4 linked regions of the Homo sapiens genome follow. The protein of the gene in region 2 interacts with the protein of the main gene of each other region in a biochemical or structural test. Each region holds a gene or a part of one and is shown on either strand. Other genes may lie near its edges. The genes, in order: MDK, LRP6, GSK3A and KREMEN1.

Region 1 (6,740 bases), on a different chromosome or scaffold from region 2:
CAAACCTCTCACCCCCTGGCTTCTGCAGGGTGGAGGCCTGGGTCACACAGGCAAGAGGAAAGGGGTCAACCTGGTGGCTCACTCGGGTTTCCATGACAGTGGGAAGGGGGGAGGTGGGCAGTGAGGTAGGCACGCAGCCCTCGCATCTGCTCTCCCCCATGGGTAGAACCTTCCTGATTGGCTGTGGGTTGTATCAAAAGACCTTTGACTGGGTGAGGCTGAGATGGGTGTGGTGGTTCCAGTGAGTCAGCCAGGTTCCCTTCCCCAGCCCTGGTCCCTGAGGGAGATGAGGACCGAAAGGCTTAGGTGACTTGATGGGGAGCACCCTTTCAGGGGCCCTGGAAGAAATGTTTGTAATTGTTCTGCTTTTTCCATGAGCTCTGGAGAGCACCCACCACCAAGCCCCCTGAAACCCACCAGTCCCTACAGCCTGGTCTTTCTCCCCACCTTCCCACTCCCAAACACATTTCCACAGCAAACTCCTTGGGAAGGGGCTTTTATATATTAAAAAAGAAGAGCTTTTATTGGGGGGAAAAAGTCAGTTTATTTGATGTGTTTCTTAGTAATGGAATTGTGGGGAAGAACAAAAGCGGGCTCTGGGACTCACATTGCTTTGGGGGAGGCTCAAGCTTCCCAGAATCCCTTGTCCCTCCCCACTTTGGGCACTTAGGGGTGGGGCTGGGGAGTGAGAGGGACAAGGCAGGGCATGATTGATTAAAGCTAACGAGCAGACAGAAGGCACTGGTGGGTCACATCTCGGGCCTGGGAGAGGGAGGGCGTGGGCCAGGCCCCATGTGACACCAGGGGCTCCTTGGCATCCAGGCTTGGCGTCTAGTCCTTTCCCTTCCCTTTCTTGGCTGTAAAACAAGAAAGAAATATTAATACCATATCAGCAGTTAGGCTGACCCATTGCAGACCGCCGGCTCCACAAACACCCGGGCATCAGGGAAGGAGAAGATTCTGCCCCCTAGTGGTTTCCAATCAGCTGACTCGGAAGCAGGGGATGGGGCAGCCATTGTGATGTGGACATGGGACATCCCCAGCTTCCTATTTCCACTTGGGATCAGAAAACCTTCAAGTTTCCAGTCCTAGTCCTGGTCACAGCAGCCCTGGGCATCCTCAGCCTCCTCACCTGAGAAGCGGGCAGATTCACCCCTGCCCTGCTGGCCTCGCTGGGCTGAGTCACGAGTGAGCTGAGAGGCCCAGGGTGGGCCTTGACCTCCTCCCAACACTAGAAAGGGCAGAGCTGACCAAATGCTGCCCGTGGCTGGAGAGCTGACAAAGGCAAGCCGTTCCAGGACACTCTCCCTGGGTCCTAAGCCAGATGCTCCAATGGAGTAGTTTGAGTTGGTCCCTATTTGGGCCAGGGAGGATTTATGTCCCCAGCATCACCTGCGGCCTCTCTTGTAGTGCCCATCTTCAGACTTTTCCAGGCAGGGAAGCCAAGTGAGGCGATGTCAGGAAGCCACTGGCCAGGACTCAAAACTTAAGGTTTAACTTGGAATTGTCCCCTCACAGGCGGGGGGGGGGGGGGGCAGCCCCCCGCGACAGCCCCACCCCCTTCTCCTTTCGCTGACCTTTGGCCTTTGCTTTGGTCTTGGGGGTGCAGGGCTTGGTGACGCGGATGGTCTCCTGGCACTGAGCATTGTAGCGCGCCTTCTTCAGGGTGCCTTGGCGGACTTTGGTGCCTGTGCCCCCATCACACGCACCCCAGTTCTCAAACTTGTACTTGCAGTCGGCTGGCGAGAGAGCGGCCCAGGTCAGCGCTGCGCGGCCCGCGGCCCCGCCCTCCGCCAAGGGTCCGCCCAGGCTTCGGCGAGGCTGTGCCCCCCGTCTCCTGCCCTCTGACTGCGCCCCGCCTCACCTCCAAACTCCTTCTTCCAGTTGCAGGGCACCCTGCACCGGATGCGCTGGGTCTGGGCCCCGCAGGTGCCCTCGCGGAAACCCACGCCGCAATCCTTGCTGCTGGGGGTGCAGGGCCCCCAGGCCCACTCAGCGCACTCGCTCCCCGGGCCGCCCTTCTTCACCTTATCTACAACGCGCGAGGAACAGAGTTCAGGACTGGGGCACGGGGAGACTCCCTCGGGAGCCGCCTTCCTGGGGTTCCAGGCTAGGAACCCAGGCGGCCCAGCCCAGAAGTGGAGGGGCCTCGCCTGCCCGTCCCCAGCCCTCCTTCGATCATCCCCCATCACCTTTCTTTTTGGCGACCGCGGAGGTGAGCGCCAGCAGGGCGAGGAGGGTGAGGAGGAGGAAGCCTCGGTGCTGCATCCTGAGGGGAGAGCCCGAGTCTGAATCCCTGGCCCGTCCCCTTCCCCACCGGGGGCCGCGTGCAGGGCCCTCCCACCTCCGCGTGCTCCACTTTCCAGGCCCCAAGTCGGGCTGCTAAGGTGGCGGCGGTGGGAAGACTTGGGGCGGCCCCTCGCCGCTAGCCCGGACGCACCGCTAAGAGGCGACTCCCCGGGGGACGCCTCGAGCCCAGGACGCAGCTCAGACCCCCACCCCCGCCTCCAGCCCCCAGCCCCTAGATCGGCCGCGGCCGGGCGGACCAGGGGCCGCCGCGCGCTCACTCGCTCGCTGCCCGCGCTGCTTCGCTCCCTCCCGCGCCGGGCCCGTCCCGCTCCGGCCGCCGCGGCCCCTTTTGTCTCCAGAACCGGTCTGAGCCGGTCACATGGGCCCCCGCCCCCTCTCCCCACCCCCCCAGGGAAGGACCCGCCCCGCCCCCTCCCCTCAAACCCGCACCGCCCCCGACCCCGGCGTCCCCGCCCCCGCTCCAGCCCGCGCCCCCCGCGCTTCTACTCCGGCGTCCGTGTTCCCGGCCCCGCGTCCTCGCGTCTCCCCGCCGGTGCCCTCTGCGCTGCGACGGCGGCCTCTCCCGGCCCCATCTTCCGAGCGGTGGTCTCCCGACCCCGGGCCCCGTCCCGCCCGCGCACACCGGCCCCCGGCCCACTCCCTGCGCCGCCGCCCGCTGCCCCCATCCCAGGTCGTCCCCTGCCGTACGCCAAGGCCCGGGCCGTTCTCAGGCCTCAGCTTCTCTTGCCTGCCGCGGAGCCCCGGCGCCTGTATAACCCGCGGGACCCGCTCCCCTCCACGGCCGGCTCAGCCCTGGCGCCCTGCTGGCTGCTGGGGAGGGGGCGCGGCCCACCTGGGGCGGTTTCCGCGGGTGGGCAGGGAAGCGCTCTGCTGTGCTGGGGGGAGTCTGGGACCCGGTCGCCCAGAGAAAGCCACGGGTGCGGTCGCCCAGTGCCTTTCCGGGAGCACAGGCTTGAGGGACTGCGAGTGGGGGTCCTGGGGGAGGAGCCCGCAGGCCTGGATTTGGTGAAACTTGGCGCTGACAGGAGCCGTCTGAGAAGTTCCAGATCCAGCCACATCGGCAGCTGCAAGTGCCCACCCCCTCTAACCCTGGGCCTGTGGCATTGCCTCGCCCGGTTCCCCCAAACCGGGAGAGCCCCCGAGGCCTGGGGGAGGGGCTTGCTCAAGGCCACAGGGCAAATGGGCCACAGAACCCGGGCTCGCCCCCGCCCCACCCCTCTTTCACTTTCATTGTTGTTCTCCGCGGGAAGCGGGAAGCCGGAGGGATCGGCCCCGCCCCCGGCCCCGACGAGCGCGGCCGCCGGGCAGAGGTCAGGAACCGGGCAGGCCCTGGGACCAACCACCAAACGGGAGCCGGGGCCCCAGGAAGGTGCTGTCGACAGCGTCCAGTCCCCCACCCCGAGGACAACCCCGCAGCCCCCGCTGCTTGTTAGACCTCCCCCGCAAAAGAAGAAAAGCAGAAAAGAAAAAAAAATCCACTTTACTGAGTCACACCCAGCTGTAAACATGTCACCGTGAGAGTCCCGCCCCCCACCCCCAGGCCGCACAGTCCGCGATGAAATGACAGGGGAGCGGGGAGGGTCGCCGGAGCGGGTGCCAAGCAAGGCAGGGCAGGCAAGTGCAGCAGGCGCTGAGTTTCCGGGAGGAAGCCCGGAGGAGGTGGGGTGGGGCAGGAGCGGGGGCTGGGGACCCGGCCGAAGACCAGGGGGCCCAGGAAGCCTCTTCCCGAAGGCCTCCCCCTCTCCAGCCCCTCCACTCCTGGGAGGGCATCTGCTGCGGCCAGGGAGCGCCCTGCCCCAGAACCCCGGCAAAGGCATATCCAACCCAGCCGTGTCTTGTTCCCTGTGAGCCTCCGGGTCCGGCGGGGTCCTCAGGGGAACAGGTGAGGCCCCCCCAGCTCCTGAGTCCAGCCCTAGGTCTGGGCGGCTCCTTAGGGGGCGGCATGGGGCTCTTTCCCTGGGGCCTAGGTCCCCCCGTGGCCGTCCCACTGGAATGTGGCAGTGAGGTGGGCAAGGAAGGCGCTCGTCCCCTGGCCGCATTGTCCCTCCTGCTGCCCGTGGGCGGCCCGCTACACAGCCGTCTCCTGGTCCTCCCGCTGGATCATCTGGTAGTGCTGCCGGTTCTCCAGGTAGGCGGCCAGCTCGGTGTCCTGAGCCTTCTCAGCCCGCTGCCGGGGAGTGTCGCCCTGGAGGAGGGCGGAGCTGCGATCAGCAGGGGCCAGAGGCAGGCCTAACCCCTAGCAGGCTGAGAGGCAGGGGCTCTACCTCCCTGTGGCCTGGTCAGGGAGGGAGGCCTCTCTGCCCACCAGCTCCTCCCCTGCTGGCTCAGGTTTCCCAGGGTCTGGACTGTGTCTTCCCAGGGACAGCCCCCAGCCCCAGCTCCCGCCTAGGACCTTGGGAAAGGTTTGGTTGGTGCCCTCGTGGGCTCCCTGCCTGCCGTCTGCTCACCTGCTGGTCTGTCTTCATGAGCGAGGCCCCGGCCTCCACGATGTAGTGGCAGATGGTGCGCTGGCCCAGGGCCGCTGCTTGGTGCAAACAGGTCTCCCCGCTGGGGGAGCAGGGGCTGGCTGTGTACCCCATCCCGTCCCCTGATCCACCCATCTGTCTCCCAAGGGCCATCAGAAAGGGCAGGAAGTTCAGGGCTCTGGGGCAATAGGGGTGGCCCAGGGGATGACAGATGTGACCAGGAAGTTTATGGGCTCTGACCTGACAAAATGGGAGGGGTGGGGAAAAGGGTGGTTTCCGGGGTGACCACGGTTCTGCACTGCCCAGATACTTACTTTTCCTCCACCGCATCAAGGATCTCTGGGGGGGCTGGAGAAGGGGAGGTGGTGGTCAGAGAGGCCTGGCAGCCCCTCCTCCTCCCACCTTGGCCCCAGGCCCTGGGCTCCACTGCCCGGCTCACCGTGGTCCAGCAGGTAGCGGACCACATCCTTGCTGCCAGTGCTGACTGCGTGGTGCAGGAGCGTGCGACTCTGCTCGTCTCGGTGCATGAGGTCGCCCCCAGCTCGGTGCAGCTCCTGGAGCTGAGGGCAGGAGGCATGGCAGGGCTGGACCTCCTGGGGCCACCCCTCCTTCCCTGAGCTCACACGCTGGCCCACAGCCGGGTACACCAGCACAGGCCTGAAACGAGTGCGCTCACACATCTTACTCCTGAGTTGCCTCTGTGGGTCTCTCTGGAGCACACCGGAGGAGGGGCCTCTCACCCCACAGCCTGTGGGCTCTCTGGCAGCACTGGTGACCAAGCCCTGGAGCAGTGCTTCCTCTGACCTGCTCCTTTCTAAGCACCAGGGACAGGTGGACTGAGCTAGGAAGCCCCTACTAGGAGCCATCTATTGTGGCCTAGACAGAGATACAGTGAAGTGGAATGGGACGATCACTGGAGATCCCACAGAGGGCCAGACGATGACAGATGACAGCACCTGAGCAGGTCAGCTCTTGGCCCAACCCAGAGGCCTCGCTCCCCAGGGCCCGAGGGAGCTGCTGGGGGAAGGAACTGGAGCCTGGAGCTAGTACCTTACAGAAGTCGTTCCTCTTGGCAGCCTCAATCAGCTCTTCACCTGCACGGAATACCTGCCTGTTACTCTGCAGTCGGAGGCCTGGGCTTGGGTTGGTGCCTCAGTGGACAGGACTGTGCCGGCCAGGCATGTGTGCCCAGGGCTCCGTTGGTGCGTGAAGCTCAAAGGCTGTGTTTGTGTAAGGCTGTGTCTGGGCCCTATCCCCACCCCACTGAGCCTCCTGCCCCCAACCAGGCAGAAAGGAGGGGCCCCAGAGGGAGAGGCCTCACCTTGAGGGGGTGCAGCATCCCCTTGCAGTGACCTGCAACAGAGCATGATGTGCTGTGACCGGCTACGGCACAGGCCAGCTGGTCGCCCTCCCCAACCCCAACTGGGGGCATCTTCATCCTTTCCACAGTTTATTGAGTGCCTGCTACACACCAAGCACTATTCCAGGCACTGGGGATACAGCAGGGAAACGAGACAGAGGAAGGCCTTGCCCTCATGGAGCTTACATTCTAGTTCAGGGATACAAACAAGTCAAATAAATAAGGAGTTCTGAGAGCAGGGGTGCTCTTAAGAATTCAGAACAGGTGATGTGGCACCCCTGCAGAGGGGGTCCTGGGAGTGATCTCTCCAAGGAGGAAACAGCCAAGCTGAGATTCGAAGGGGATGGGGGTGGGGGAGCTCCGGAAAGATGGGGGAAGAGTTGGAGGCAGCGATGACAGAAGTCCAGTGGTGGCAAACACCTGATGCCTCAAAGAACCAAGAGAAGAGAGTGGGGCAGGACCATGGAGGTGAACTCAGGGAGGGGGCTGGGAGCCCAGTGCAATGACGGGGGGCCTGGGGAGAATCCACGTCCAAAGGGCTGCTGAGAAAGAAGCTTCTAGGTTGGGGAGTGGCCTGGTATGCTCTGCATTTTTAGTTGACCGTG
Region 2 (7,032 bases):
TTTTAAGAGAGTCACAAATGCTGGCTTTTATAATAATAAAATACAGCCTCAGGCTTTGGCAGTATTCTAAGGAGGAATTACCCACCAAAGTGACTGGTTTCAAAATAGTTTGATATTCTAAGAATGAAATATTGGGATAAGATTGGTTCATAGAATTGAGAGTTTAAAACAGCAACATACTCAGAGCACAGAATTTTAGAAAAGTTGAGAGAAATGTAAGTTCAGCCATTGCTTGCATATGCTATTACAATTTGGAGTGAAAGATTTCTCATGTAGTTGCATGGAATAAAGAAAGATTGAAATAAATAAAGTGTATTTGTAAGCCAAAAAAGAGAAAATTATTCCTTTTTGCTAATTTATGAGTCTATAAAGTGTGTTGAGCAGGTCAAGTACTGTTGTGTCAGCTTCCACTTCTATGTTCCTTGAAAGGCCAACAGACCATCAGTAGCTTGAGAGTTTCTATCTACACACTGAAGTGCCCAGGGTTCATGGGCATCCCTCAAGTGCCTGTTATCTTCTAGATAATCTTTTCTATCTTCTATCCTCTCTAGATAATCTTCTATTATCTTTCCTAGCATTTCAGTCAAATTGGCCTGATACGACCTCACCCATGTGTAGAAATGAAGTGGAAACCACTTAAAGTATCTCACTCAGAATTCTCATTTCAGCTTAGATAAGACTGAAATAGCCTTGGCTGTGAACTGATTGTTTTAATGATATGTTGTAATGTTGCTTTCCCTGCCACAAGTTTCTTCTTCTAGGAAGCCAAAACAGAAAAAGCAGAAGCCTGAAAATTGAGAAAGGAGAAAGATACAAAATTTTATTTTTTAAAAGTAATGTCCTTAATTCAAATTGACTAAGGCACTCATCAGAATAAACACGATTGCATAAAAAACTATTCTTGCTTAACTATTTTCCGTATAAGCCCAATTTCTGTTTCCTCTGAGTCAAAACTTACATCATTTGTTGAGATTTTGGTTTAAACTGGGACATGAAAAAATTTTATTAATTCAGTTTGTTTTCTTTTTTTTTTTTCATGAAAATAGAAGTATTTGGACTTTTAAATGTTGACCTTAGAAATTTCACCAAGGATTGACACCTGATTGGACAAAGAGTTAAACAAAACAAACTGTGACATCATGTCAGTATTGATAGTAAAAGCCTTTGAGAACTCACTCAGTGGGTCATATAACTTTTGGTCTCTGGCAGCCTTGCACCCTTTTTATTTTTATTTTTATTTTTTTTGAGACAGGGTCTTGCTCTGTCACCCAGGCTGGAGTGCAGGGGCACAATCACAGCTTACTGCAGTCTCCACCTCCCGGGCTCAAGCAGTCCTCCTGCTTCAGCCACCCAAGTAGCTGGGACTACAGGTGTGTGTCACCACGCCTGGCTAGCTTTTTTTTATTTTTTGTAGAGACGGGGTCTTGCTATGGTGCCCAGGCTGGTTTCTTTCTTTCTTTCTTTTTTAAAGACTAATCAAATGCAGTAGTAAGAAGGGGAGACAGAGTAGAACAAGGAATTTGATCTGTGACTGTGAACAATCTGGCAGCCATTTCTTTTGAAGCAAGCCAAGTGATATCAAATGGTTTGTATCCTGGGTTCCTGGGATATATTACCTGGTGGTGCTCTGTATCACTAGGTGTTTTATGAATCGTTGTATCAGTTTTTAACTTGGTTTTCCCCTTCTCTTGTAGTCACTTTGATGAGAAAGCTTATGAAAAAATCTTTGGGATAAATTTAAGATCAGCTTTACCATATTTAGAATAAACAGGTATAAGAAGTTAAAAATAGAAGTAGGAATGACAGAAAAGCCAGAACTTAGGTCAGATCTTATTTTCACTAGTATGTTTCTCTCTTTCCAATGCCTTTTTCTTTAGTTAGCAGTGCTACAAACCTAACAACTGTATGTCACTTGTAAAGATAAACAAGTGTAAGAAATAAACTAGGCCTCTGAAATATACATTAGAAAATTCACTGACCCTTTATGGGCATTTAAATTTTATCATTTTGATGTTTAAAGCTGCTCTTATGAGAGGTACTTACCTATACACAGGGAATGAAAACCGTTTCCCCCAATCACAGCAATTTCCCTTTGCTAAGATAACAACAATGGAATAGTTATGCCCCTGAGGCTGTCTACCAAAATCCAGCCTGGACTGTACAGAAATTGTACAGAATTGTACAGAAGAAAGAAATGAAGACTTCAGATGTCATTAAATTAATTATTCATCAGGTTAATTTTGGAGTAAAGAATGTTGAGGGAATGCTGACATGTTTGAGTAGTGTAAAATATGTAAAAACCCATTCTTCCCATGGGCTATGAAACTGCAGAACAAATTTGAATAGTCATTTTTTATTCTGTGATACAGTTTAACTTGAAGATGTAAGAGCACAACCAGAGGCTAGATTGAATTCACCTCTGCATTCCCATCCTGTTCATTTTCACTTGCCACTTTCTTATTTGCAAATAAGAAAGTACCTGCTATTTTCCTCAGCGAATCTGCCATTGAAAATTGCCTCTTGGTCTGTGTAAATTTAAATTGCAGTAGCTTATTGTTTTCATAGGGTAGTTGACATCTAATACCTCTATTCTGAGAGGGGAAATCATTTTTTTTTGTAAAACTAACTGCTTCTCTTTATTTTCTCCCTATACCAGCTACAGGCCATATAGCTACCGGCACTTTGCACCCCCCACCACACCCTGCAGCACAGATGTTTGTGACAGTGACTATGCTCCTAGTCGGAGAATGACCTCAGTGGCAACAGCCAAGGGCTATACCAGTGACTTGAACTATGATTCAGAACCTGTGCCCCCACCTCCCACACCCCGAAGCCAATACTTGTCAGCAGAGGAGAACTATGAAAGCTGCCCACCTTCTCCATACACAGAGAGGAGCTATTCTCATCACCTCTACCCACCGCCACCCTCTCCCTGTACAGACTCCTCCTGAGGAGGGGCCCTCCTCCTCTGACTGCCTCCAACGTAAAAATGTAAATATAAATTTGGTTGAGATCTGGAGGGGGGGAGGGAGCTATTAGAGAAGGATGAGGCAGACCATGTACAGTTAAAATTATAAAATGGGGTAGGGAATACTGGAGATATTTGTACAGAAGAAAAGGATATTTATATATTTTCTTAAAACAGCAGATTTGCTGCTTGTGCCATAAAAGTTTGTATAAAAAAAATTTGTACTAAAAGTTTTATTTTTGCAAACTAAATACACAAAGCATGCCTTAAACCCAGTGAAGCAACTGAGTACAAAGGAAACAGGAATAATAAAGGCATCACTGACCAGGAATATCTGGGCTTTATTGATACCAAAAATAAAAAAGAGGAAGAAGAAAAATTAAGTCCATCTCAGAGCAGCAAACCATAGATACATGGATGTAGCCAGATAGCCTTCAGTTAACTAACATTTGAGGGCCAACAAGTAAGAAATGATGAAAGGAAAAAAATGCAATTAATACTAACCTTGGACGAAGGGCTTTGTTTTCTCTAGGAATCCAACAGTGCTAGTGAGGAAAGTAGATATTTCTAAAAACCCATTCTGGGTGTTGCTGTTGTAGGAGAGATCAGCCCTCTGGTAAGATGCCATGAAGCTGTGTGTGTGTGCAAGTCTCTGTCCCTACCTTTAGAATCCATACCTCTGTCAAAATGAATTTTTTTCTCTAGGTATGTTTACCTTGCTGCCTCCTCCAGCAACTTGGTAAGTCATTTTGCTAAGATACCATGATTTTTTTAAGCTGAAGCATTGACTAAATGGAATTTTCTAAATTAAACTTGATTTTAATATTTCTTCTAGCTCCATTCCCCAGTAGGCTTAGCTCTTCAATTTGACTGCTGTTTTTGCATAATGATCAAAAGTTAGACATATTATTTCTCTTCTTCCAAGATTGTTTTAATGCTCATTAAAATGTCTTTTTACAACACATATAGACAATGTTTAAGAATTAAAAATTTAACCATTATGTTTTTGTTGTAAATCTCATATCCTTGCACTACTTTCAGCATATATCACAGTACGAAATCATTTATATATATATATATATATATATATATATATATATATATATATATATATATATTTTGTTTGTTTGTTTGTTTTCTGAGTAAAACATTTAAATATGTTCTGGTTAGAGACAATCTATTTAAAAAGATTTTTTTCTTATTAGGATTTTCCCTATATTAACAGTTTGTGATGTTTTCATGTTCTTTAGACCGGTTTTTCTCAGAATAATGTCTACATACATACCTCTTCTAATGTGTGACATGAATTTAATATCTTTCTGTTACCCACTGTGAATGTTAGGCTGTTTTCAAATTATCCACAAATTATTCTTGTAATCACCCAATATTTTTATGTGGGTCCTCTCTTACCCATTATGGATTAAGATAGTTTAACAAATTTAACAATGAGGATTAAATGAGAAGGCAAACTGTTAACTTCTCAGCTGTCAGAATTTGGGTGGAAGGGAATAATGGAAGCCTCTTTTGTGATCTGCCTGACCTGCTGTCATGTATGGTACTGGGGCTGCTACATCTTGAGCTATCAGGGCTGACCTGTGGAATGATTCTAGCACTTGCTCTGCCACCTTGCCAGAAGTTCGTTTCCTGCTTTTTACACATGTGTAGCACTTCTCTGCTAAAATTGAATGGTTTTAAACTAATGTATTTTTAGCTTAAGAGGTGTTGGTCAGTTAATTATTGAATTTTTTTTTTTTCTTTTTTAATTCTGTCTTGCCAAGGCCTCTCTGGGTTTCAGGGCCCAAGAGAAAACAGTGGAAGAAAGGATTCAGAATTTGGGCAAGGGTGAAGTAACTGTTCATGCAAGTTAAAAATACCTAAGTAAAGTTTTTGAAGATAAAATTGTGGTTTCAGAATAATGCTGATTGTTGGAGACTGTAAGAATCAGGTGCACTTGATTTTGCATATAAGCAAATGGTAAATCTATCAGAATCCTAAAACAGACAAGCATGAACTCTTCCCATTGCTGGAACTAAGTGCCCACAGTGTCAGACAAAATGGACATTGAACTTGGATTCTGTGATACACAGGGCACTTGATGCTTAAATGAAGATGGAAAGGTTAGCAATACCTGGGTGTCAGTTAGAATTTGAGAATTCTATATGTTTACATATTTAAATGTGCATCTTGATCTGGTGGGCTTCCCATGTGGAGACTTGCACTCTAATTAACTAAGAAGAATATTGCCTTGTTGGATCTCAGTCCACGTGCTTGCACTGCGATGGCAATGGCCTCTTCTTCAAAATACTAATTTGTGTGCCAATTTGTTTAAAATTATTTGAAGGCAGTTCAGCCTAATCTCAGTGTTCTCTTTCTGGGGTAGATGAGATGGATTCTTAATATTTCTGGGAGTACTTTTTAATGAGAGAATTGTCAAATTTGGAAAGATTTATTGAGCCTTAGGTTACATGGACAGTTAAGCTTAAGTAAACTGTATATTGATTATCAAACACAAGCTGTAATTGGAAAAGTTGAGAGGAAAAGCATGAGATCACAAATTAGGGGGAAAAAAGAAAAGGGATTTTTAAATTTGGTGTATTAAATTCATTGTCCAAGGGGGAAAATGAATAATGTTTCATTAGATTCCTTATATGCAAAAGTATTTATTTTGAACATGTGTCCTAAAATATATGCACTAACTGATGTGATTAAAATTGTCCAAGAAATAAACTTGAGCATAACATACTTTGTGTGCACCACAGTAAGCTATTCTGCATTGAAGTGGTCTTTTATAACTAAGGCCTGGACTTTGCTCCAACAGAGTCGTGGTCTTCTGAATAGTGACTTAAGGAGTTTTGTTTGCTTAAGTCAGATAATAGCACATTCACAGGGAAACAAAGAGAGTTGGTGGATAGAATTTTCTGACTATTAATTTTTCTTCCATGAAATTTTATTATGCCTTTGGCACTTTCTGCCACTCTTACAGCATATCACAAGATATCTGTTTAGCAGAAGATTATGTAGTTACTTTAATTTTAATATAAAAGTAGCTTGTGATACATTACCAAGAGATCTCTGATTCTTTAGTAAGTTTGAGAACACCTATTCTACAGAGATGATAGGTACTTAGAAATGAAGACTTTAAAGTACATTTTAATCTAATATAGGCCAGTAATTGGGGGAAGGGGCTTTGAGCAGTACAATTTTAAGATGATTTTGAGGGTTGTATTTCTTTATCATTTAAAAATATCCTAAAGTCAGTAATTTATATGAAGGAAACTCATTCATTATTGAAGGTATTAAAAATAGCCATCATCTGTATTAGGTAGCAGTTTTGGAGGATCATCTTTTTCTTTTGCTATAAAGCCCTATTAATGAAGAATACTTCCAGTAGAGTTAATAGCTGTAGCTTACCTAGTGTGTTAATGAAGTGTGTTTATTTATGTGACTTGATACCAGTAGTCATAATAGAGACTGAAGAGGTATGCGTTAAGCACGCCTACTTCTATGCAGTAAACAGGCTGCAGCTGCCTAGATTAGATTCTTAGAAATGTCATATTTTGAATTGTTTTATTTCTTGTAGGGGAAGCTTTGTCCCACTTCATTCATTTGCATGCCATAGGAATTACATATTGGTTATCATTACGTATCTAACAAGATTCAGAAACAAAAATCTTGGACTTTTCACATCCGAAATATGTCAGCTCTTAATAAATGTGTGGTGCTTAAGTCTACATATGGCATCCATAGTTGATTTAGAGTATGGATATGAGTGTGTTGACCAGTTATCAGTAGGTGGACAAATATTTGGGCATCTACAGATGAGACTATGCACTAAGTGTGGACTGAGTCCTAAAGAAGCTTATAGTCAGGTGTTGTTTAAAACATTATCAGAATTCTTAAACCCAAGGAATTTAATTTTATTTGGTATTTCTTAAGCCTAAAATGAACCAAGAGAAAGATGATTTTAGAAAGTACTTGTAGTGAAAGATGATTTTAGAAAGTACTTGTAGTGCATGTGTGGCTTCTGACTTTTGGGATGGCACCATTTTATAATAGTTTCAAAA
Region 3 (7,553 bases), on a different chromosome or scaffold from region 2:
TTTGGGAATCAGATTCCAGCCTTGACTGGGGCACTTGCTCTATGACCTCAGGCAATCCTCTTACCTGAGTTTGTTTCCCTGCTTTTAAACTTAGCTTACACTTAGAATGGGTATAACCACAGTACCTACCCTCAGAGAATCTTTATGTAAATTAAACAAGAATTTGCTTATTAAGCACTTACATTGAGCAAATGCCCAGTAAAAGCTCTGGGCTCTCCTGGGATCCACATTTCCCATCTTTCACAGGTCTCATTTCCTCTTTTCCCCCTTCTCTTCTGGCCCATGGCTCTGAAACCCAAGCCTCCAGCTCTCTGGCTCAGGTTCTCCCACCAGTCACACCCAGTCCCCAAACCTCCCTGTCCCCATCCCGCCCAAGCTACCTTGAACCTCTTGTCCTGGAGAACCTTCTTGATGGCGACTAGTTCCCTGGTCTCTGCCAGCCGTGCCTGGTACACGACCCCAAATGAGCCATTGCCAATCACTTTGATGTCCGTGTAAGCCACTTCTTGGGAGCGCTCTGGGCCTTGGCCTAGAGTGGCTACGACTGTGGTCACCTTCCCGCTGTCACCTGGGGAACAAAGGGGATACACGATCCACTGACCCATCCTGCCTGCGCATCACCCTATCCTGGGGCTGTGGGAGGAAGGGAAATCTCTGCAGGAAGCTCGTTGGGGACCTCTTTGTCCCCTCCTCCTCTTTGAGGAAAGGTGGATGCTGGGACCTTCCCAGTGACTTTTCCCCTCTTCCTTTCTGGGAATCTTAAGTCCTGCTCCCCTCCACATAGGAGGATATTGATACCTAAATCTCTCTGCTTCAAGGGTTGGCAACCCCAAATTTCTACTTCTAGGAAGCAACAGATCACTGGTCCATCTTGGTACTGGGAGACATCAGATGTTGACTCCATCTACTCTGGATCTACTGCCCTCTGGCCCCTCCTATTTGGAGAAAGCTTGACCGAGCCTCTTCCACTTCAGGGAGCAGTAACCCTGAGGTACTCCTACTTTAGGAAAGCACTAACCTCTCTCACAGCCTAGAGGATACTGACCTCTAAGTCCTCCCCTGTAGAGCTGGTAACTTTACTGGTTCTTGGTGACAGAAATGAATGTCCTCTCCTGCTATAAGTGCCAGTGCCCTGACCCTCACTTTTTGGTACTTTGAGGTTAGAAAAAAACACTGACCTGACCTCTTCATCTGAGTGGTCCAGAGACCCAGACCCCTCACTATATGTGGGTGGTCCCTAATGGACAAGCACCAAATTATGATAATGATGAACCTGACCTTTATTATCAAGGAGCTATTCCAGCCTCAGTCCTTTGAAGGAAAGCTATAATTCCCAATTCCCATTATTCAAATGGTGGCAAACCTTGGTGCCATTCTTAGAGGATAGTGACCCCTTTGAGTAACTGATGAACCAAATCCATTTTTTTGTTTTTTTTTTTGAGACACAGTTTCGCTCTCGTTGCCCAGCTGGAGTGCAGTGGCACGATCTCGACTCACTGCAACCTCCGCCTGCTGGGTTCAAGCGATTCTCCTGCCTCAGCCTCCCGAGAAGCTGGGATTACAGGCGCCCGCCACCACGCCCAGCTAATTTTTTATATTTTTAGTAGAGACAGGGTTCCACCAGTTGGCCAGGCTGGTCTCGAACTCCTGACCGCAGGTGATCCGCCCACCTCAGCCTCCCAAAGTGCTGGGATTACAGGCGTGAGCCACCGCGCCCGGCCACCAAATCCATTTTGAGGGGCCAGTGACAAGTTCTTTCAGAGGGAGATAACCCTACATCACTTTTTTTTTTCAGAGCCAATGACACCATACCTTAGAACAATTATTAAAAAAGTATAACCTTAGATCCATATTCTGTAGGAAACTGTGACCTACCCTGCTCCATTCCATTTTTGTTAAAGGAGACACACCAAGCCATGTATTTTAAAACATGGACTATGGACTTGGTTTGAAGGATATGCTGACTCCCAATGTCTTTATATCTAAAAGGCAGTAACTATTAATTCTCACCATTGGCAGTACAGCTCAACAAGATTTAGGGTGGGTAATGATGCCAGGTCTTGGTTTTAATAGGGAAGATGATCTGAGTACCAGGTTTGGAAAGCCTGGCCCTATTCTTTGGGGACAAAACACAGTAACCTCAAAGCCCTGCTTCTAAGTGATATTCGCTCCAAATCCCCATCTTCTGAAGGACAGGGAATGCAGATCCCTCTTTTTCGGGGTTGGTCTTATTCTTGTTCTCTTAGGAGACAATAACCCTAGATCCCCATTTGCAAGCGACTGTGACCTCTGATCCAATATTATAATGAATAGCAACATCAGATACCTGTTCTTAAGGCTCAAGGACCCAAGACCTCAATAATGGAAGAACAGAGACTTGTAACCCGTTTCTTTAAGTGTTAGTAATTCTGATCCACGAGTAATTCTGATCTCCAAGAGATGGTAACCCCAAGACTCCTTTTCCTGGGAGGAAGAGGGCTCGGATCCCCGGTATGGGGAGGCACAGTGACCTCGAGCTCCTATCTAAGCACATGAAAGAATCTGATGGATGTCTGAGGAGCTTTGGGAACCCTAATCACCACCCTACACGGGCGCCACTAGTACTCACGGCCCAGCTTCACCCCGGGCGGCGGGAAGCTAGTGCCTGCGCCGGGGCCTCCGCTGCCTCCTCCGCCGCTGCCGCCGGGTCCACCCCCGGAGCTCGAGGCCCCGACGCCCCCACCCATGGCCCCGACAGATGCCTTTCCGCCGCCGGTGCCGCCTGGGCCGGAGGCCGAGCCTCCGGGGCCGCCGCCGCCTCCTCCGCCTCCGCCGCCGGGCTCCGCGAACGAGCTAGTCCGCGCCCTGCCCGAGCCCCCAGGGCCGCCTCCCGAAGGCCCGCCGCCGCTCATGGCGCCGAGCACAGGCCCAGGCTGCGGGGCTCGGGCTGCCCGGGCTGCCCCAGCCGCCGCCGCTGCCGCCGCCTCCCCCGGGCCCTGGCCTCTTCCAGGCCGCGCCGCTCTGGCTTGGGCTCCGGCTCCGGCCCAGCGCCCGCCGCGGGGCACGCCGGGAGATGCAGTCCGGCTGTCGTCCGCGCCGCCGTCACCGCCCTCGGCCCGCACAGAGAGCCGCGTGGCACGCCGGGAAATGAAGTCCACAAAAGCCTCAGAGTAGACCGCGGGAATGATGGGCGGGAATGACGGGTCACGCTGTACGTCGGGAAATGGAGTCCAGGGTAATCTGTCAGCCGACTGTACGACGGGGAGCCCTGAAGCACTTTAGGAAGCAGAGAGCCTGATGCACGCTGGGAAACGGAGTCCACTCACTCAGTCTATTAGCTGTGTATGCCTCCCAGAGCTCGGTGCGCTCTGGGAAATTGAGTCGGCCCGCGTGAACCTGCGGGTCTCGGGCCGTGAGGCAAGCCGGGAAATGGAGTCGTCGCCACGCCCTCACCGCATTGCAGGTGTAAAGCGATTTTTAAAGCACGCCGGGAAATGGAGTCTCAGGTGGTTTTTAAGCCCCAGGTGGATACTGCAGTTCCGGAGATGGGCGAGGAAATGGAGTAGGTTTACGCGCTCCTCTTTCCAGGTACGCTGGGCCGCAGTCCCTGCCGGGAAGTGTAGTCAGCACCAAGGCCTCAGTGCAGTTGCCACAGCGAGCCCTGGTGTGTTCTGGGAAATGGAGTTCGACGTATCCTCCCCATTGACTGAGGGGGCGGGATCGCCCATGAGCTCCAAGCATGCTGGGGAATAGTCCAGACCTGACCCTCTGTGAGGCCAGTCTGCGGAGGCTTGCCGGGAAGCGAAGTCCAATGGCCACCATCAGGGGCGTGTGAACGAAAGGTTAGAGACTGCGGCAGTTCCCTGGAGAGACTTAAAAGTGTTTCAGCGCCTCCTTCCTCGCCCCCAGGTCCTTCTTTAAGAAAGAGCCGAGGTCGATCAAGGACTGCTGGAAAATGGATCCAAGCACCTTTAAGTTCCAGGTGACCATAGATCAGGAAAGAAAAAATGTCCCCTCTCTAACCGCAACTCTGCAAAGATTCGGGAAACAAAGTTCCCGGCGGTTTCTCAGAACACTAACTAGTCTTCGGATACAGTCTAGCTTTTCCTAGCAATGTGGTTCGCACCAGGAAGCTGAATGGAGCATTAAAAAGACGGAAATGTCATTTCTGGGCCTGGCGCTGTGGCTCAGGCTGGGCGCCAGTAGCTCACGCCTGTAATCCTAGCACTTTGGGAGGCCGAGGCTGGCGGATCATCCGAGGTCAGGAGTTCGAGACCAGCCTGGCCAACATAGCGAAACCCCCGTCTCTACTAAAAGTACAAAAATTAGCCGGGTGTGGTGGCGGGCGCCTGTAATACCAGCTACTCAGGAGGCTGAAGCAGGAGAATCGCTTGAACCCGGGAGGCATAGGTTGCAGTGAGCCGAGATCGCGCCACTGCACTCCAGTCTGGGCGAAAAGAGTGAGACTCCGTCTCAAAAAAAAAAAAATCCTGTCTTGAACCACCATTCAGTTTTCAGTTTTTGGTTTGTTTTGAGACAGGGTCTCGCTCTGCCGCCCAGGCTGGCGGGCAGTGGCGCAATCACAGGTCACTGCAGCCTCTAACTCCCAGGCTCAAGCAATCCCCCCACCTAAGCCTCCCATGTAGGTGGGACTACAGGCGTGCACCATCACGCCCAGCTAATTTGGTTTGGTTTGTTTTTTGGGGTGGTGGGGGGTAGCGGGGTGGGCTTCGCCATGTTGCCCAGGCTGGTCTCCAATTCCTGGGCTCAAGCGATTCTACCTCAGCCTCCAACGTGCTGGTATTTCAGGCTTGAGCCACGGCACCGGGCCTCCCACTCTTGTGTTTTGCATCCTCCGCTTCCTAAATTACAAGATCCCGGAAAGCCAAAAATAAGGAAGCCAGCTGCCTCAGGTTTTGTGTACTCAGTGAGTCGTCCTATTTATCGATTAATACCCGAAGGAGAGTAGCCCCCAAAAGGCGCTGGGAAACAGAGTTCCTGTGTCTGTATGTGTCTCTTCCTCCCCCGGAAATACTTAGAAGTAGAATGAAAGCGTTCTCAGCCCCTCCCGCATCCTGGAATGGTGGGAAATGGAGTCTCTGGACTTCACGTTAATCCGAGCTTGTGCTTATACTAACTGTCCTGTCCTTTCTGAAACCAGAAGAAAGTCCTGTCCACTCAGTTTGTTCCTGACTGCAATTCCCCGCGGACACAACTGCGGGGGTCGGTAGCGCCAAAGCCTGTTGAGACTACATTACCCAGAAGGCAAAGTGCGGAACACTTCCGCTCCCTTCACAAAGCAGGTGGCCGCACCACGCGCGGCTAGGCGCGGGCGTTTCTGGGAGTTGCAGTTTCCCAGCCAAATGGTACCTGCTGCCCTCTGATGGCAGCTCTGAGTCAAAAAGTAAAAATTTCAGTCGAGCCCCTTGGCCTAGGGATTCCAACGCGGGACCAAGACGGCTCAAAAGGGCGGCGACATGGGGCAGGATAGCGAGGGTTATTTAACCGCCAGAACCCGTGGGGCATGCGCCGCTGCGTGTGGGCAACCGCCACGAGGGGATTGGGGTCCGTGGGAGTTTGAAGGTGACGGTCTGCAATCTATCAGGATGTTTGTAGAGGATGAGAATGTTCATAGAGGGATGCTAGGAAGGGTTGTAAACGTCTGAGAGAGGCCTATGGGTGTCTAGAAGGGCTAAGAGGAGTCCGTGGAGTGGTGAAGGGGTCTTTGATGAGCTTAGTTGACAGGATAATTACTGGGGACCAGTGGAGAAGCCTGAGGGGACTTAGGCTGTCTGCTAAAAGTTCTATGGGTGGGTGGACGCGATGGCTTACACTTGCAATCCCAGCACTTTGTGAGGTCAAGGCCGTGGATCACTTGAGGTCAGTCAGAAGTTCGAGACCCGCCTGGCCAACATGGAGGAAACCCCATCTCTACTAAAAACACACAAAAAAATTAGCCGGGCGTGGTGGCCCACGCCTGTAATCCCAGCTACTCGGGAAGCTGAGGCACAAGAATCTCTTGAACCTGGGAGGCTGAGGTTGCAGTGGGCTGAGATTGCACCACTGCACTCCACCCTGGGCAACAGAGTGAGACTCTGTTTTGAAAAAAAAGAAAAAAAAAAAAGGTCTATGGGAGACAGAAATTACTGGTGACCAAGGGGATCTCTGAGCGACCTGAAGGGGTGAGGGATGGTTGAGAAGCATTGGGAAGGGGCTTTGAGAGTCTGTGGAGGTACTGGGGCTACACGTACAAAGCAGGGAGGTCTCTGATGAGATTAATTAATATGTGAAGTGCCTTGAGAGCATCTGTAAAGGGCTTTCTACTTGGAAGCAAGGATCTCAGAGGATATGGATGGGACCAAGGGTGTCTTCTTGCAGGAACATTTCAAGCCAGCTAGCTAATAGATTTAGGTGGGCGATTAAAGGTTAGAGTAGCCGCTGGAGTTTTCAAGGCCAAATGCCACCTGTGACATCCTACACAGCCAGAATCTGGGGCAACTTGTCTGGTAGGGCTGTGGTCTGACCTGGACAGCAGTTAGGGAGCTGAGCTGAGCACTTATGATTCCATATTAGATGTGGTTAGAGGTGCTTTGAAGGCACTGGGTTCAGGGGCTGAGGCCAGTAGTTAGGGTCCTCTCCTCCCGAGTGACAACATCCCCTTCTCCATCACCCCACCACCACCACCAACTCAGCTGCAACTATGTTGCCAGGAGACATGTCTCATCCCAGCTTCCAGAAATAGCCCAGTGGCCCCCACCCCAGGGAATGACTTACATCACCCAGGAGAGGGAGCAGTTTCCCGCAGGCCGCCTCGGGAGCCTCGGTTTCCTGCCAGTATCCTAGCCCTGGATCCTCTCTTCCCTGCCAACCGACATCATCTGGGACCACCCACCCTGGCTGGCATGAAATGAGATGCGAGTGGGTAGCAGTTGCCAGTCAACGTTTCTTCCCCCTCAGGGTTGCACAGGGTGGAGTTTCATGGCGAAGCCAGTCCAACAAGCCCTCAATTGCCACTCCATCTCTTAGCAGCTGTGTGGCCTTGGGGAAACCCCTTCCCCTTTCTGGGCCTCAGGCACCTCACCTGCATGGTGGAGACAGAACTTGTCTCTAAGGGTACTTCCAGCCTGGATTATTCCTCCTAATTCTTTCATCCCTGATTCAAGCTCTCCAATCTCAGCTTCTAGCTCTATGAGCTCATCTCAAATCCTCTGATCCTGAAAGCCTGATCTGGATCCAACTATCTTGGTGTTAGGAAGGAAAAGTCAGGAGTTGTTGAAAGAACGTGGGCTTTGAAGTCCTGGCTCAGCCACAGGGCCCTGGGCAAGTCACTTAGCAGCACTGGTTGCCCCTACCTTACTGGATACTGAAGGAGCTACAACACTGCAGCTCTTAAGTATTGGACACACAGTAGGTCAACAGCATCGATGACTAGTGAGCCAGTCCCTTGGCTGTGTGCTGGCTGGGGGTGTTCCCATACCTGGACCTGAAGATCACCAAGTTACCTTGCAAGGTCTACATTTCAAGAGACACCACAGGCTGTTCTCCAAAGGACTCCCAGCTGAACTCAGAGCAAC
Region 4 (7,000 bases), on a different chromosome or scaffold from region 2:
CAACTCTGCTCTTCCCCAGTCTCTGCCTTCCCTTCTAAGCCAGTTACTTTGAGCCCAGAAAAGTGCATTCCCATCACTCACCAACTCTCAGACATCTCTAATGTGATGGGTCTGAAAAAGTCACACAAGACAAACATGGTGTCGGGTGTCAGTTGAGAAATCAAAGTAGGAGAACTTGTACAAAGCCCTTCTTTAAACAGTATTTCATTGTCATTTTCCTCCCTCTATTCGGTGTTCAGCTTTGATGTATTTATTTGGTAAAGCCCTTAGAAAACTGTTTATTATCAATGTCAAAACCATATTGAAAAGCATCAGAATAGCTTAATAAAGAACAAGCAAATTCATCCTTGACTTTGCTGCAGTGCTAAAACAAAAGGCCTGGGCTCTTTGATGTGATAATCAACAATTTCAGCCTCCCTTTTCCAAAGTATAAACTGGTATTAAATAGTTCAGGTCTCCTGCATTCCATCAAATCAAACGAGAGGGTTTGATGTGATGGCTGATCAGGGCTAAGGAGAAAGGTGGTCCCTCCTGGCTCTCACTGCTCTCTTAATGGATGTTTATGGGTACATTTCTAGAAGCCTGTGAGTAGAAGTGGGTGCTAATCCACAAGAAAGAAAAATTTTTCACATAAATTAGGCCTCACTGGAAACTTAAAATTTACCTTAAAGTCAGACTTAAAAACATGAGCTCTTCTGAGAAGACTTGCTTGATAGGAAGCAACAGAGCAATAGAATAAACCAACAGCCTACTACCAAGAGATATTTTGGAACAAGAAGATAAGCAACTATGGAAAAACAAAAACCAAATACTTGTCTCTCTTCCTAAACACTCTTCCCAACCCAACCAACTATTCCTATGAATAGAAAACCTAGGGGAAGGTAATAAAAAATGGGGTGGGACTAATTTTTTAATTTATGCAAAAAATAAATTAACATGTATAACTTGGAAAATAAAATATAAAAGAACTATTTAATAAGCATGTGTAACTTGAACAATAAAATACAACAGATAGCAAAATGTGAAGTGGCAAATACCCAAATTGGTTGTCTCTGGGACTTGGGACTTGGTGGGGAGGGTTTCAGGGAAAATAGGTAAAATGGGGAATTTTAACTATTTAAACCACATATATTTGTGGTGTTGGAGAAGTTTTTTTTTTTAAGAATAAGCTTTTAACACTTTTATAACAAACAAAATAAGTCAATAGCAACTAGGAGGGAATGGTCAGTTGATACAAGATAGAGAAAGGTATAGGGATAAAGAAAACATAGACTAAAGGCCTGGTGACTTTGAGACAACTACAAGGGCCCTAGAGCGTTAGCAAAGGTATGTAGAGGGCAGAAGGTAAACAGTGTGGCCCATACAATACAGGAAAATATATGTTGGCTCAGCTGCGTCAACAGTGCCATGGTTGAGATTCCAATGTATGTAGAACCAGGGACAGGGTATATAGTTCAACAATCATTTTTCCCTGTCCCAGTAGCTCAAGAGGCTGCCTTTGCACCTGTACTAATAATAATTAAATTCAATGCATTGCTGAACCATAAGTCTCATTACCAGGATCTTGGGCATAAGCAGCACAAATGTATAACCAAAAGTGCTTACAGTCTTTGTTCTGGACCCTACATACCAGTGATCCTGAACTTGTTTTCAATCACAGATAACTTTGAGAAGCTGATCAAAGCTATGGATCATCCCCAGGAAATTGTGAATCACTTTTGAAGCACCATAGATGTCAGGTTAAGATCCCCTGCTAGAGTCAGACGGGAGGTGAAAAGCAAAGAAACACCTTAGTCGACTAAAAGGAAGTAAATGGCACACATCTGATGGATACAGCTGTTCCCAGAGCAAGGTTATCCTGGGCTGGCCGGAGGCACAACAATGTAGGCAGCTTCCTTTGCTCAGAAGCAGAGGGAGATTTGGGTCACACATGGTGCTGTCTGACCACGACATTCTCGGTAGTGTAGGCTGCTCTGCTAACTGTGTATTGTCCACTGGTGGTAGGGCTAACTAAGAAAACCCTCCCAAAGAGACAAGGAAGTGATCAGACAGAAAAGCAGAGCTTTCAAAGCCAGCATTAAAACAACCCATGTTGAAAAGAGTGGTAAATTGGCCGGGCGCGGTGGCTCACGCCTGTAACCCCAGCACTTTGGGAGGCTGAGGCGGGCGGATCACAAGGTCAGGAGATCGAGACCATCCTGGCTAACACGGTTGAAACCCTGTCTCTACTAAAAACACGAAAAATTAGCCGGGCGTGTTGGCGGGCGCCTGTAGTCCCAGCTACTCGGGAGGCTGAGGCAGGAGAATGGCGTGAACCCGGGAGGCGGAGCTTGCAGTGAGCCGAGATCGCGCCACTGCACTCCAGCCTGGGCGACAGAGCGAGACGCCGTCTCAAAAAAAAAAAAAAAGAGTGGTAAATTGTGTGTGTGTGTGTGTGTGTGTGTGTGTGTGTGTGTGTGTGTAAGGTGTGAAAGAAATATTTTTAAAACTGACAAGATAAGTCTCTTGAGTTGGTCAAAAGACTTCCCCTAGTTGTGAGCTGGGATGAAAGGGGTTGGAAGAAGAGACTAGATATATATCTATCTTTTTAAAGTACTGAGTGGCCCCATCTTACCTGCAATAGTTGTGCTCACCCAGGCCCCCCTCCCCGTTGGGGTATTTCAGAGTGTTGTATGGATGCTGGAAAGTCTCGTTCCAAAACAGACATGGCTTCCCGCCTTGTAGTGCTGTCCAGTTCTGTGTTCCCCTATAATCCGCACCATTGGCTGTGAAACACTCTAGAAGAAAAAAAAGACAGAGCAAACTAATTTTCTGGCAACATTCATGGTTTCCTCCCTCTTTGGTTGATGTTTTGTTTTGTTTGGACCAAGCTGGAAATGGATAGTGTCTTGCTAGATCCTGGACACAGTGCAGTTAACACTTCTGGGGCTGAATAAATCTGAAACAAGGTACCCTCAAAAAGCTAGGCTAATCTTGGCACTAGCTTGTCTACAGACACTAGAACATTTTCCCCTAAAGTATACAGATCCCAACTAGGAAATAAACAGGGAGCTGAAGTGTACTGAAGCCCATGAAGTGAACCAGGAAACCCCTAAATCTGGGAACAGTTGGTAACAGCCATCCATGTGGAATTCTGGATACTCTGAGGGGGTCACTGCTCTCGCCAGTGGCTCTGTGTGGTAACTGGAACCAGGTCACCAGCTGTAACTGAGCTCTTCCCTACAGTCTGAAAGGCTGCACTGACACTTGGATTTAATAAGATCATCGGATACAGCAATGCTTTGGAATCCCAATCACACAAATCTGGGAATGACTCACATTCCCTGGTAATGAAGAACAGTCCTCCCCATGCTGTTTGAGATAGAGGTGGAACAAAACAGACAGTCAACATGAGGGAGGAAGGGCCGGGCTGGCATTTTCTCTCACCTCTTTCTGAAATTCTTTTGATGAGGCACATTGAAAATGGTCTCAGGTCCAATTTAATAAAATGACAAATCCTCACAGGTGCAACAATGTGTTTCTAAAATCTGCTTCTCAGACTTTGGGGGATGGGGACTGAGGCTGATAGGATTTTCACCCACATATTGCATGCATTAAACTCGAAGAGGTTCATGAGACAGGCACAGTACAAAGAACAATTTTTTAAAATTAGCTTAGTTGAAACTGACAGAAGCACTTCAAACACTTCTTTAAGATATATCATTAGAAAACTGACAACCTGGGGGAGTTACACTAGCATTCTTAGCTGCATTTCTTTCCTTCTCCTGGCATGCACTGACCTATAACTTCCAGTATTAAGGACTCTTAATGCCATCTCCTGTTGTCATCCATGTGCCTACTCCAGTCTAAGCGTGTGAACAACATGAACACATTCTGGCAGATATTTCTTTTAATACTTCAAACTATCCACAGAACATCTCTCTTCCAGCACCTCCTTCCTCTGACCATCCAGGCCCTGTGTTTTGTCTGGAATGGCACCATTTTATGGATAGCCAAAATAATCTGAATGTCCACCTATGCAAGAAACCCTAGGAATTTATTTTTTATTATTTTTATTTTTTGAATGGAGTCTCACTCTGTTGCCCAGGCTGGAGTGCAGTGTTGCAATCTTGGCTCACCACAACCTCCGCCTCCCAGGTTCAAGCGATTCTCCTGCCTCGGCCTCCCTAGTAACTGGGATTACAGGCACCCACCACCATGCCCAGCTAATTTTGTATTTTTAGTAGATACAGGGTTTCACCATGTTGGCCAGGCTGGTCTCAAACTCCCAACCTCAAGTGATCCACCCACCTGGGCCTCCCAGAGTGCTGGGATTATAGGTGTCAGCCACCACACCCCACCAACCCTAACAATTTATCATGTTTGGTGCAATGCTCATGTGTTATGATAAGTGCAACTCTTCGTGTACCATAAGGACCAAACCCCTCTACCAAGAGTCTGCACAAATAAGTTCAAAGGAGGCATAAATTGAAGGAGGCAGTTCAGTGTCGCATAAAATGCACTAAACCAAGAGACTAAGCCTTGGCTTCTTGTCCTGGACCTGCTGCTGACCAGCTGTGCGACCTTGGATGAATAAACATCATCCAAATCACTTCTAATATTTACACAGTGTTTTACCATGTGCCAAACTCTGTCTAAGTGCTTCACAAATGTCAACTTGCCACCAACCCAGAGAGGTACCTTAGTACCCCATTTTACAGATAAGGGAGCTGGGCACTCGACCACACCCTATACTGCCTCTAATGGACCCTCCTCAGCATCATTCTTGCTTCTCCCATTCTCTCCCTCACTCCACTTCCGATTCGTCAGCAAGTCCTGTTGACTTCCCTAAAACATACACCCTGAAACTGCCTTCTCTCCATCTTTGATGCCACCAGTATAGTCCCCTTTATCATCAGAGAACAGTTTGGGTCTCACAGCTTCCACTTCTGTTCTCTCACAATCCATTCTCCATAGTTCTTAAAAGAATGATGGCACTCAAAACAAAACTCAGACTCTTCCTCGGTGTCTGCAAGGCCTCTGTGATGCAGCCTCAGCCCCTTCCTCCCATGAAGCAGAGCTCTTCCCTTACTCACTCGCTGTGCTTCGGCCACACTGGTCTGCTTTTAATTCTGTGAACACACTATGCTATTTCCTGCCCAAAATGTTCTTCCCCTAATACTTCCCATCACAGACTGAACACTACCTTCTCAGAAAGCCCTTCTCATCATCTTTACTCCTATTTTTCTGCCCTTTGTTTGCTTCACAACACTTACTATCACAAGAAATATATGTGATCTGAGAGAAAGAGAGAGAGAGAGACAATGTGTGTGGTATGTACCACACCAGACACACCAGAGCTCTATCCCAATCCCAGAGCTAGAGCAGGACCTGAAACCTGTATTTCTGAAAGGCAGCCCAGGTGGTTCTGTTAAGCAATCAGGTTTGAGAACCACTAGACTAGATGATTCTAAGAACATCAGCCAACCCTTGCCAATTGCTAGAATTTTAATTGCTGTGTGTTAATACATGTTTTTCTCCTATCAGAATTTGTACATCAAAACATCATACTGTACCCCTTAAATATATAGGATAAAAATAAAATTTTTTTTAAAGTGTGAAGGGTGATCCAGGGGCCAGAAATCAGAGATGCAGCTCAATAGATCAATGGAAGGTCTTAGCTATACATAGCAAACTGCAGGACAGGTGGGGTTCCTGAGACTCGGATGACTTGGTTTGTAATACAAAAGAATGTAGCAGAATGTGTAATAAAAAGAATCCATGGCCGGGCACAGTGGCTCAAGCCTGTAATCCCAGCACTTTGGGAGGCCGAGGCGAGCGGATCACCTGAGGTCAGGAGTTCGAGACCAGCCTGGCCAACATGGAGAAACGCCGTCTCTACTAAAAATACAAAATTAGCCGGGGGTGGTAGTGCATGCCTGTAATCCCAGCTACTTGGGAAGCTGAGGCAGGAGAATCGCTTGAACCCAGGAGGCGGAGGTTGTGGTGAGCCGAGATCGTGCCTTTGCACTCCAGCTGGGGCAACAAGAGTGAAACTCTGTCTCAATAAATAAATAAATAAAATGCACACACATGACAGTCCTCATGGAGACGAGATGGCATCTGAGAGTGGAAATGGGAAAGTGCAGGCTTCTTTGCTTGGGTCTGTTCCTCTCAGACCCAATCTTGTTCTCAGTTACACTGGTGAAACTGAGGCAGTGTATCAGATTCTGTGATTGTTTTTTGACCAGACTTGCCCAGTACATATCAATTACAGAGAAAAGCAAGGGAAACCAACTCGAATGCTCTGCATTTAAAGTCATCTAGCGCATCTTGATTTCATCAGAGTACTAGGGTGTATGTTAGGTAAATAGGACCCTACCTCCCTTATTTTTTTTCTTCAAAACAGTGATTTTATTTCCTTTGAATATATACCTAGAACTGAGATTGCTAGAATATGGTCATTCTATTTTGAATCATTTGAGGAACCTCCACACTGTTTTCTATCGTGATCATGTTAAGTTTTTTAACTTTTATTTTGGGTTCAGGGGTACATGTGAAGGTTTGTTACACAGGTAAACTCATGTCACAGGGGTGTGTTGTACAGATTATTTCATCACCCAGGTACCCAACAGTTATCTTCCTGCTGATCTCCCTCCTCCCACCCTCCACCCTCAAGTAGACCCCAGTGTCTGCTGTTTCCTTCTTTGTGTTCATAAGGTCTATCATGTAGCTCCCAGCCTCCCTTATTTTCTACTGCTACGAAACTGATGTAAGCTTTGGCTAAATAAGCAAGGAGCGGCTTAAACCAGTAAGAAACACACACACACAGAGCCAACTGTTTATTTACGTATTCAGTGAAAAGAGAATGAGTGAAAGCAAGAGATCTAATGTCTAGGAAATTATTCATTAATTAGTTCAGCAAATATTTATTCAATACTATGTGCCTGGCACTGTTCACAGCACTGGGGCTACAGAGATGAACAAATATCCTGTATTCATGGAGCTTACATGTTTATAA

What was found.
Region 1: the proteins of LRP6 (region 2) and MDK form a complex in vitro, tested with the Homo sapiens proteins (one study listed by BioGRID).
Region 3: the proteins of LRP6 (region 2) and GSK3A form a complex in vitro, tested with the Homo sapiens proteins (one study listed by BioGRID).
Region 4: the proteins of LRP6 (region 2) and KREMEN1 interact in a biophysical measurement, tested with the Homo sapiens proteins (one study listed by IntAct).

Annotation. Positions count from the first base shown.
Region 1 is NC_000011.10:46,377,586-46,384,325, reverse strand, and holds MDK (midkine isoform a precursor), read right to left. Parts: upstream 2,658-6,740; 5' UTR 2,568-2,657; exon of another isoform or gene 2,270-2,567; 5' UTR 2,269-2,269; coding exon 2,193-2,268; intron 2,033-2,192; coding exon 1,865-2,032; intron 1,740-1,864; coding exon 1,578-1,739; intron 858-1,577; coding exon 832-857; 3' UTR 525-831; downstream 1-524. Other genes in the region: DGKZ (diacylglycerol kinase zeta), read right to left, coding at 4,379-4,495, 4,758-4,857, 5,090-5,123, 5,215-5,335, 5,826-5,869, 6,097-6,128. UniProt on the Homo sapiens protein: Secreted protein that functions as a cytokine and growth factor and mediates its signal through cell-surface proteoglycan and non-proteoglycan receptors. Binds cell-surface proteoglycan receptors via their chondroitin sulfate (CS) groups.
Region 2 is NC_000012.12:12,117,045-12,124,076, reverse strand, and holds part of LRP6 (low-density lipoprotein receptor-related protein 6 isoform b precursor), read left to right. Parts: intron 1-748; coding exon of another isoform or gene 749-798; exon of another isoform or gene 799-895; intron 896-1,471; coding exon of another isoform or gene 1,472-1,562; exon of another isoform or gene 1,563-1,585; intron 1,586-2,656; coding exon 2,657-2,951; 3' UTR 2,952-7,032. UniProt on the Homo sapiens protein: Component of the Wnt-Fzd-LRP5-LRP6 complex that triggers beta-catenin signaling through inducing aggregation of receptor-ligand complexes into ribosome-sized signalosomes.
Region 3 is NC_000019.10:42,239,575-42,247,127, forward strand, and holds the start of GSK3A (glycogen synthase kinase-3 alpha), read right to left. Parts: upstream 3,029-7,553; 5' UTR 2,892-3,028; coding exon 2,609-2,891; intron 569-2,608; coding exon 381-568; intron 1-380. UniProt on the Homo sapiens protein: Constitutively active protein kinase that acts as a negative regulator in the hormonal control of glucose homeostasis, Wnt signaling and regulation of transcription factors and microtubules, by phosphorylating and inactivating glycogen synthase (GYS1 or GYS2), CTNNB1/beta-catenin, APC and AXIN1.
Region 4 is NC_000022.11:29,090,035-29,097,034, reverse strand, and holds part of KREMEN1 (kremen protein 1 isoform 3 precursor), read right to left. Parts: intron 2,778-7,000; coding exon 2,615-2,777; intron 1-2,614. UniProt on the Homo sapiens protein: Receptor for Dickkopf proteins. Cooperates with DKK1/2 to inhibit Wnt/beta-catenin signaling by promoting the endocytosis of Wnt receptors LRP5 and LRP6.